Linked DNA regions of Homo sapiens. The protein of the gene in region 1 interacts with the protein of each later gene in a pairwise test. Each region holds a gene or a part of one and is shown on either strand. Other genes may lie near its edges. The genes, in order: TMEM253 and RAPGEF5.

What was found.
Region 2: the proteins of TMEM253 (region 1) and RAPGEF5 interact in a two-hybrid assay, tested with the Homo sapiens proteins (one large-scale study listed by BioGRID and IntAct).

The regions. Positions count from the first base shown.
Region 1 is NC_000014.9:21,099,424-21,103,944, forward strand, and holds TMEM253 (transmembrane protein 253), read left to right. Parts: upstream 1-1,642; 5' UTR 1,643-1,761; intron 1,762-1,884; 5' UTR 1,885-1,920; coding exon 1,921-2,028; intron 2,029-2,441; coding exon 2,442-2,552; intron 2,553-2,640; coding exon 2,641-2,697; exon of another isoform or gene 2,698-2,769; intron 2,770-2,981; coding exon 2,982-3,092; intron 3,093-3,209; coding exon 3,210-3,356; intron 3,357-3,715; coding exon 3,716-3,835; 3' UTR 3,836-4,301; downstream 4,302-4,521.
Region 2 is NC_000007.14:22,350,554-22,354,367, reverse strand, and holds part of RAPGEF5 (rap guanine nucleotide exchange factor 5), read left to right. Parts: intron 1-3,814. UniProt on the Homo sapiens protein: Guanine nucleotide exchange factor (GEF) for RAP1A, RAP2A and MRAS/M-Ras-GTP. Its association with MRAS inhibits Rap1 activation.

The DNA.
Region 1 (4,521 bases):
AATTGAGGAGGAGTAGACACACAGCAGTTTTCTGGATCTCTTTAAAACGTGACTCCCACTCCCCGGGAAAGAAAAGAGTAGATACAATGACCCGCCGATGTTGGCACAGCACTGATGGGGCAGGAGTGGCTTACAAAAGATCACTTGCCTCCCAGGACCCTGCCTCCCTCCTCGTACTAACTTCTAGAGTCTTCTGGCGCAGTCTCCTCTTATCGTCAACAACAAGAAATAATAATAGTGATGATGATCATAGCCACTAACATTGAGCACTTGTGTACCAGGTACTGGGCTAAGCTCTCTTCCATGCTGAAAGCAACCCCTTGAGACTGGTATTATTAACTTCCTTTTATAGATAAGGGAACAGAGAGATTAAGCAACTTGCCAAGGGCACCTAGGTAGATCTGGGATTTGTTTTGATCTATAGAGTATATTTGGGCCCAGCTGGTTCTGCTTCCGACTGTAGAAATGTGTCCCCAGCTTCCTTCTGAATAACACTTTTAGTGTATGGGCATCAGACTTATCGGTGTGACCTCATCAGCACCACTAATAGTTATTAAACACCCACCCTGAATCAACAACTCTTCACAGTCATATTGTTAGCCCCCTTTTATCAGTGAATAAACTGAGGTGCGAATAGGTAGAAAAACATATCTATCAGGACAGACACAGTGGCCCACACCTGTAATCCCAGCAGTTTGGGAGGCCAAGCAGGGAGGATGGCTTGAGCCCAGGAGTTTGAGACCAGCTTAGGCAACATTGTGAGACGACCCTGTCTCTACAAAAAATTTAAAAATTAGCCAGGCATGGTGGCATGTGCCTGTGATCCCAGCTACTTGGGAGACTGAGGCAGGATGATTATTTGTGCCCAGAAGGTGTTGGCTACAGTGAGCCATGATCATGCCACTGCACTCCAGCCTGGGTGACAGTGAGCCCCTGTCTCAATAATATAATAATAATAATAATAATAATGTATCCAAGATCACACAGATGGAGAAGCAGCAGAGCTAAGATTCCAGCTCAGGTCTGTCTGGCTATGAGGCACCTTCTCTCTCAAAAATATTAATTGTTGCAATAGCATCCTTCCCAAGACTCACTATTTGAGGACCATGAGATAGATAGATAGATAGATAGATAATGTCCAGTTGCAGGTTATCATTGAATCAAAAACAATCCCCACCATAAACAGGGTCCCCCCCATCCATTGAGTCAGTGTTCAGTTCAGAGTAAAACCTTCAAGAAAGAAGGAAGGGAGACTGTCCAGAAAGTGAGAGGCAAGAAAGCCCCTGGAATTCAACCTTACCTGGTCTGGGGGCAAAGCTGCAAGTAGTAATGACAGGGGACCAATCCAGACAGAAAGTAGGATCTCTAGGGAAGGGCACATAATTTGAGGAGGAAGCCAAAGAAAGGAGTAAGATCATATGGAAATGAGGGGGAATTGAGGTCCAGAGTGATAGTGTCCATGGGGATGAGGTAAGTGAAACCAGAAAAGGAACCCAGGATGGGCAGAAATGAGGGTAATGAGAAATGGGAACAGAGTGAGGTCGGGCTAGACATCTTGTGGAGTGAACTGAGGCCGGTATCTACCCAGGGCCACTCCCTAGATCCTTAGGCCTTCATAGAAACCTTTGCCCCACCACACCCCATCCCTGACAGCCTTCCTCTGCCAGGACAAGTTTGTCGTCTGCTCTGAGCTATCAAGCCCCTTAGGAGACCTAGGACCCAGCTGGGTCCCATCCCTTTGGAGTAGCTGCTTCAGACTAGGTAGGTGTGAGGACCTGGACCTCAAATCCCTGGATATTGGGAGTGGGCAGAGGTGTAGCTGAAAGATACGTTGTTGCATGTCCTGTCTCCTAATAGACAGAACCTATAACGCATTTTTCCCAGCCTAGGAAGCACCTAATTCTTGTGGGCAAAGGAGCCATGGAAGATAGAGCTGGTGAGCAAGAGCAGGAGAGACACAGCCTTCGTCTGGAAAAGCTACAACACTGGGCAAGGCACAGGCAGAGTGGGCACCTCTTGGTGCTAGCGGTGAGGCCAGGCTACCCCATCCCAGGTCTCAGCATGTCCACTTCTACCCAATTCAATTCCATCCATCCATCCATCCATGTTAAGTGAGCACCTACCATGTGCCAGAAACTGAGCTAGGTTCTGAATGGGAGGAGGGTAGAGGAAAACATAGAAATAAACAAGGCAAGACCCTTAATCTCCCAAGTAGCTTCCATCTTGTGGGGGAAAACATACAGGTAAGTAACTAAACTACAATATGAGGCAGAAAAAATTAAATGATACTTAATTTTTAATGATCACGTCCTTGCTCTGGGTTGACTGCTTTCCTCCACCCTGCATTCAATCCCATTTCCTGATCTCTAAAGAGGTAGGAGTTACGAGAAGGGAGGGAATCCCTGACAGTTCCTCCCCAATTACCCTACCCTTACCCCCAGGTGAGCCAGCTATGGCTGGCAGTGGTTGTGGTGCCCCTTGCTGTCTCAGTCGCCTGCCTGAACTCTGATTGTCACATGGCCACAGCGCTGCCTCTTGGGCCTGGAGCCTCAGTAAGACCCACCACAAGGGAGGGTGGAAGGTCCCAGGGCCCCTTCCTAACGGGACCAGAGCTCAACACTTGCCCTTCTCACCATTCAGGGTCTCCTCACTGGGACTGTCACTCTGGAGCTTCGCAGAGCACCCCGCCTTTGGAAGGTGAGAGGGAAGAAAACGCAGCACTGTCCTCCCACTCCCTAAAACAGACACCTACAACCCTCAGCCTAGGAAGTAAGTGGCTAAGTGTTGACTCATTCTCTCAGCTGTCACCACTGACTGGCCTCAATCACTGAGGAGGAAAGCAAAAAAGTTAAGAGGGCTTATGGCCCTGTTTGGAGGCTGAGAAGCAGAAGCTGAGTTTTGTCTTCAGCTAGGCTGCAAGTGGGGATTGAGGTTGGAATGACTCCCCTAGGCTGGGCAGGGCTGAGCTGGCTCACTGGCAGGTGCGGGCCATGATGATATTCAACACCTTCAACTTGATCTTGGGTTTCATAGTGGTGGTGGTCGAGGTGATGAAGACAGCCTTGGGGCCTGCCCCAACTGCCTCCTCCCAGGTACTGGTCAATGAAGGAGAAGGTGGGAGGATAAGGAGGCAAGAGGAGGTGGGAAGGGAAAAGGGCAGGGGCAAACAGGTGCGGGGTCCCTGCATTCTCAGCCCTGTCTACCTGCAGCATGCTGGCTTGCTGGTGCTGGAACTCAGTGCTGAGGCCTTCACCCTAGGGGGAGTGCTGGTCTCAGTGCACGCCCTATTCTTGCTGAGCCAGAGGAAACCAGGATGCTGCAGGAGCCAGAGTCTGCACTATCAAGAGCTGCAGGAGGTATGGGGGCAGGGAAGAAAGCACGAATAGCTAGCTGCCAACTAATTTTTCCACTGCCTATCCTGGTCAGTGGCACTTAAGGGAAAATAATGGGGCAGGAGAGAAAAGAAGAGGTCCTAGAATGAAACTGATTGGCTTTCTCTGGCTTTGAACATTTCTCCCCTAATGGTGGGTAAGAGGAAACTGGGAATCCAAATGATTGAGGTTAAAAGAGTGGGAAAGCATTAGGAAGCTGCCTAAATATTGGCAGGACTATGGGAAACAGGATAGAAAATTGGGCAGGAGGAAGCAGTTGTTTCTGTCTGGGGTTTCTCCTTTCTCACCTCTACAATTTGCTCACACCTGTCTCTGGTTTTCAGGGCTTCTCTGAGTTGGAAGAGGTTCCTGGTTTGGAGAATGGTCCCACGGTGGCCAGCACAGGAGCAAATGAGAGGGTGGGACAGCGGGAACAGACACGTGCTGCTCTCCTTCCACCCTGAGAGAATGCTCTCCAGACATTCCTGCATCCCACCCCACCAAACTCAGAAGCTTGCTGGGATCCTTCGAGTCCAATAGGAAGTCCGGGAGTGCCTTCAGTTTTCACTCAAAGCAGGCCCTTTTTTCGTTCCTTCCCTGTTAGGGGAAGATACACCTGGACGAGAATATATCCTCACCTCACCACCCTGAAAAGCTGCTTTCTCCCTTGCATCCATATCCTCTCTTCCTGTCACCTCCCCATACAGCTTCACATTTGCCTCATCGCACTTTTCTTTTCTGTCCACCTTTCATAATCCCATCCACTCCAAATCCCGGACCCTGCACACGCCAACTCCCTGAATCCAATTCAGGAGTGCCCCAGTTCCCCTTTCGATCCATCTCCTTTCTACTGTAGCGGAGACTACAAGTCCCAGGATGCCCCGCTAGCCCGTGACCGGCTAGGAAATAAAGAGCCTTCTCTCCGCGGTAGGGGCGCTGTTGGATGTGCTGAGTGACGCGAGGCGGGGAAGTCGGGGCCTAGCCTGGCGCTTTCTCGGACGCGACCACTGGCCCCGCGTTCGGGGAGGAGCCGGGCGGGCGGTCCTGCACTGGCGTGCCGCTCCCCCAGCCACTGCAATAGAGAGCTGGATCTGGGTCCCCAGCCCTGCGCTGGCAGCTTCAGAGACTGGCGAGGGCTCGGAGCTGACGC
Region 2 (3,814 bases), on another chromosome or scaffold:
GGGCCATACCTCCAGACTGGAGCTGCGTGACTTCAGGGATAAGTTAACAGAAATCCATTACCACTAGTAAAGACACAGCTTTGTGCATTACATGAGTTAGTTGAGTTTTCATCTCCTATATTGACCAAGATCTGATTTAGGAATATGTGTGGTCCTTATCCATGCTGCCCTGGGCTCCCACAAACCTGGACAATCTGACATCAACTGACATTAACAAAGTTCTTTGTGGGTTGTGTTGCTCAACCCAGGTGCATTATAGGCTTTTTTTGTTGTTGTTGTTTTGTTTTGTTTTTTTTCTGAGACAGGGTTTTGCTCTGCCACCTAGGCTGGAGTGCAGTGGTGTGATCATAGCTCACTATAGCCTCGACCTTCTGGCTCAAGCGGTCCTCCCACCTCAGCCTCCTGAGGAACTGGGATACAGGCACACACCACCATGCTTGGCTAATTTTTTTTTTCCTATTTCTTTTAGAGACTGGGGGTCTCACTACGTTGTAGGCTATCTGTTACTAGGAAAAAATCAAACTGCCATTTGGTTAATATGCCTGAGTTCCTTGGTTCCTCAGTTCAGTCACTTCTAGTTGTGTTGAATTCAGCATGCATACTGGTTAAGACTCTTTGCACTTCTTTAAGACAAATGAGGGAAAGACTAAGTTGTACATTGTGGGAGGGCCCTAACTACCTCTTAAAAATCAGTAGCAAAGTAATGCACAACCTGAGTTCCTGACAAAACCCTTTAATTTTTTTAATTGTATAACAGAGATTATGAGAGAATGGTATAATGAACACCTGTGCTTCAACAGTTATTAGCATTTTGCCAGTCTTGTTTCATTTATTTTCCCCCTCCATACACTTTTGTAGGGGCTAGTGCATTTTAAAACAAAATTCCGTACATCATGTTGTCTTACTCACAAATTTTTCAGTTTACGGTCCTGATAAGGACATTAAAAACAACAGCAAAACTTTGCCTTTTTCACACCTAAAATATTAATAATTTAAAAATATAATTTCCATATTCAAATTTTCTCAAAGTTGTCTTTTTACTTATGATTGTTGGAAACAGGAGCTAAATGAGGTCCACATATTGTATTTAGTTGTTAGGATTTCTAATTTATTTTATAACAGCTTCCCCTCCCTTTTTTCATGCCAGTGATTTGCAGAAGAGAGTGGTTCATTTGTGCTGTAGAACATCCTACTGTCTGGACTGATTCCTTGTGGTGATGTTTAGCTTGTTCCTCTATTCTGTTTCCTGTGATCTGGCAGTTAGATATAGAGGTTTGATTAGATATAGGTTCAAAGACAAGTAACCTTCATGGATGGTGCTGTGTAAAATCTATTGCATCACATCGTGAGACGCATAATGTCTGGATATCTCTCTTTTTGAGATGGAAAGATTGATTCGTGAGTTTAGGTAGTGTCACTTAGCTGTCTGTCTTCTACTTAATGATTTTAGTATCACAGATCGTTGTAGCCTAGATCCTTTTCATTAGGGGTTGCAAAATGGTGATGATCTAAATCCATCATTCTTCTTGCATTTATTAATTGGAATTCGGTCTGTAAAGAACTTTCCCTCATAAATTATTTAGGTCTCCTGAAATTCACAATGTGCAGGATAGACAGGGAAAAGTCTTAATTTTTTCCTTTTACCAACTATCAGAGTAATGATTTGGTGCTTTAACAATCTCCAGTGAGAACCAGTGAGTTTTTCTTTTTTAAGTGTCATTAAGAACTTATGAATCTTAATGTATTTGTTTCTGTCACTTCAGTCAATATCCTTTTTGGTGCTTGGTTTATCTTTGTCTCCTGTATACTTTTTAAATGGCCAGTAAACTCAAATACCTTTCTTACTTTTCTGACGCAAGATATTCTAAGTGCATCTTGTCCATAGTCTGCTGCTCCCGACCTGAAACCCTGAAATCAGCCATTTTCCCAAGGAGCATTGATGAATTTTTTTTTTTTAAACTGACAATCGTTCATTTCCCCATCTTTTACCTTTCTTAGTGGTTGCATTATTTTTCCCTTGGTCTTAAGCCTCCTACCTTACTTTTTTGTATCTTTTTAAGTCTTTCTCATCAGGTTGTTTCTAAGACTGATATTTTCCCCCTAATAAAAGAACTGATAACAGCTATTCCCTTTTTCTGTATATACTGTCAAAATGCTGGGACTGACTTATTTTGGGCTTTGGCTGCTGTGATGTTTTCTGCAGCCTCTGCCACTGTCTTCAACGTCTTGGTATCTGTTTCATTTACAGCAGCCAGAATGATTCACCAGTTGTGCCAAATTGCTCACCAAAGACCTTCAGTGATTCCCAGCTTTTGGATTGGTCATCAGAAGGGCCTAATTCTCTTTAACCACCCTTCACTAGCCAGGGTTCTTATGGCCTGTGCTCTTCAAAATTGAGAAACTGGGAAGAACAGCTGGTAGCCCTCTGAATGAAGTTCTCTCTTTTTCTTTGCCCAGATGATTCCGTCTCAAAAAGGAACAAAGTATCCCTTTCCCTTTGTACAAGCTGGAGTGCTTTAGCTCTGACTCAATACCCTCCTCTGCTAGAAACTTGACTTTATTGATTGAGAAATAGAAACCGATCCAAATTATATACCAGTATGCCCAATGTATCGCCGTTTTAGGCACCTATTTTACAGGCAAAGCATGTCATTTATTCTTTGTGTTTAAATTGAAATCAATGGCTAACATCATAGCACTTAATTATGTACCATGCATATTCTGATATAAACTTCAACTCTCACTACAAGCCTATGAGCCTATGAGTTAGATGCTGCTATTTGCATTCCACAGATGAAGAAACTGAAACACAGGTGTAATTTGCCCGAGGTTACAGAGTGTGTGCCAGAAGGGAGGTTTGCATCTATGTATCCTGTTTCCGTAGAGCCAAGTCCATGCTCTGAATTAACTTTAGTTTTCCTCAAATGCATTGAGAGGGCAAAGGGTCTATTTACTCTAAACTGTGATAGCCTTATAGTACCTGCTGATATTATCTTACCACTCTGAGAGAGGTAAATAAATGCCATTAATAATGTCAGACTTTTCACTTTTATTTGGGCACACAGAAGCTTATTATTGACATATTGGGTTTAGGGGAAGTGGGGAGAAGCATTGTGGTTATAGGCGAAAGGTAACTAATGTTTACTTAAATTAAAAATAGCTCAAGATCAGCCTGGGCAACAAAGCAAGACCATGTTGCTACAAAAAACAAACAAACAAACAAACAACTAAAATACAAAACAAAACAGCATCCATGTGTCATAAGCAAAATCAGCCATGCTCACTTGATCAAGGTCAATCCAAAAACCTTGTGAATTCACCCAGCTTACTTTGTTCTCATCTGCTTATGGCAGCCAGAAGATAAAGGCCATTAAGAGAGGCATGCATCTGCCAGGAAGGGTGAGTCAGATCAGATATGAGGGACACATAGTGAACTTATTTGAGAAATATTGACTTCACTGCCTCTGCTTGCTGACAAACTACTATCCTGATCCTTGGTGTAAAACTGTGTTAGCTATGGCTACAGATAAAATAAAGCTCTGTGGATGCCAACTTCAAAAATATTTATTTGGGAAGAAGGAAAAGAAACTGTAGATTCATTTAATTTCGTGTGAATTCTAGCAAAGGAACTCAATGGCAAGTTAATATTTTATTTACTTATTTCTTCCTTTCCCTCCCAACCCCCACACTTTGGTGACATAATTAGATCCCAGGAAAAGACACAGGCTGTGGCTTCAGAGTGGGTTTGAATCCCAGTGCTATCACTTATTATCTTTGCATTAGTTATTCTCTGAGCATTCTGAGCCTCAGTGTC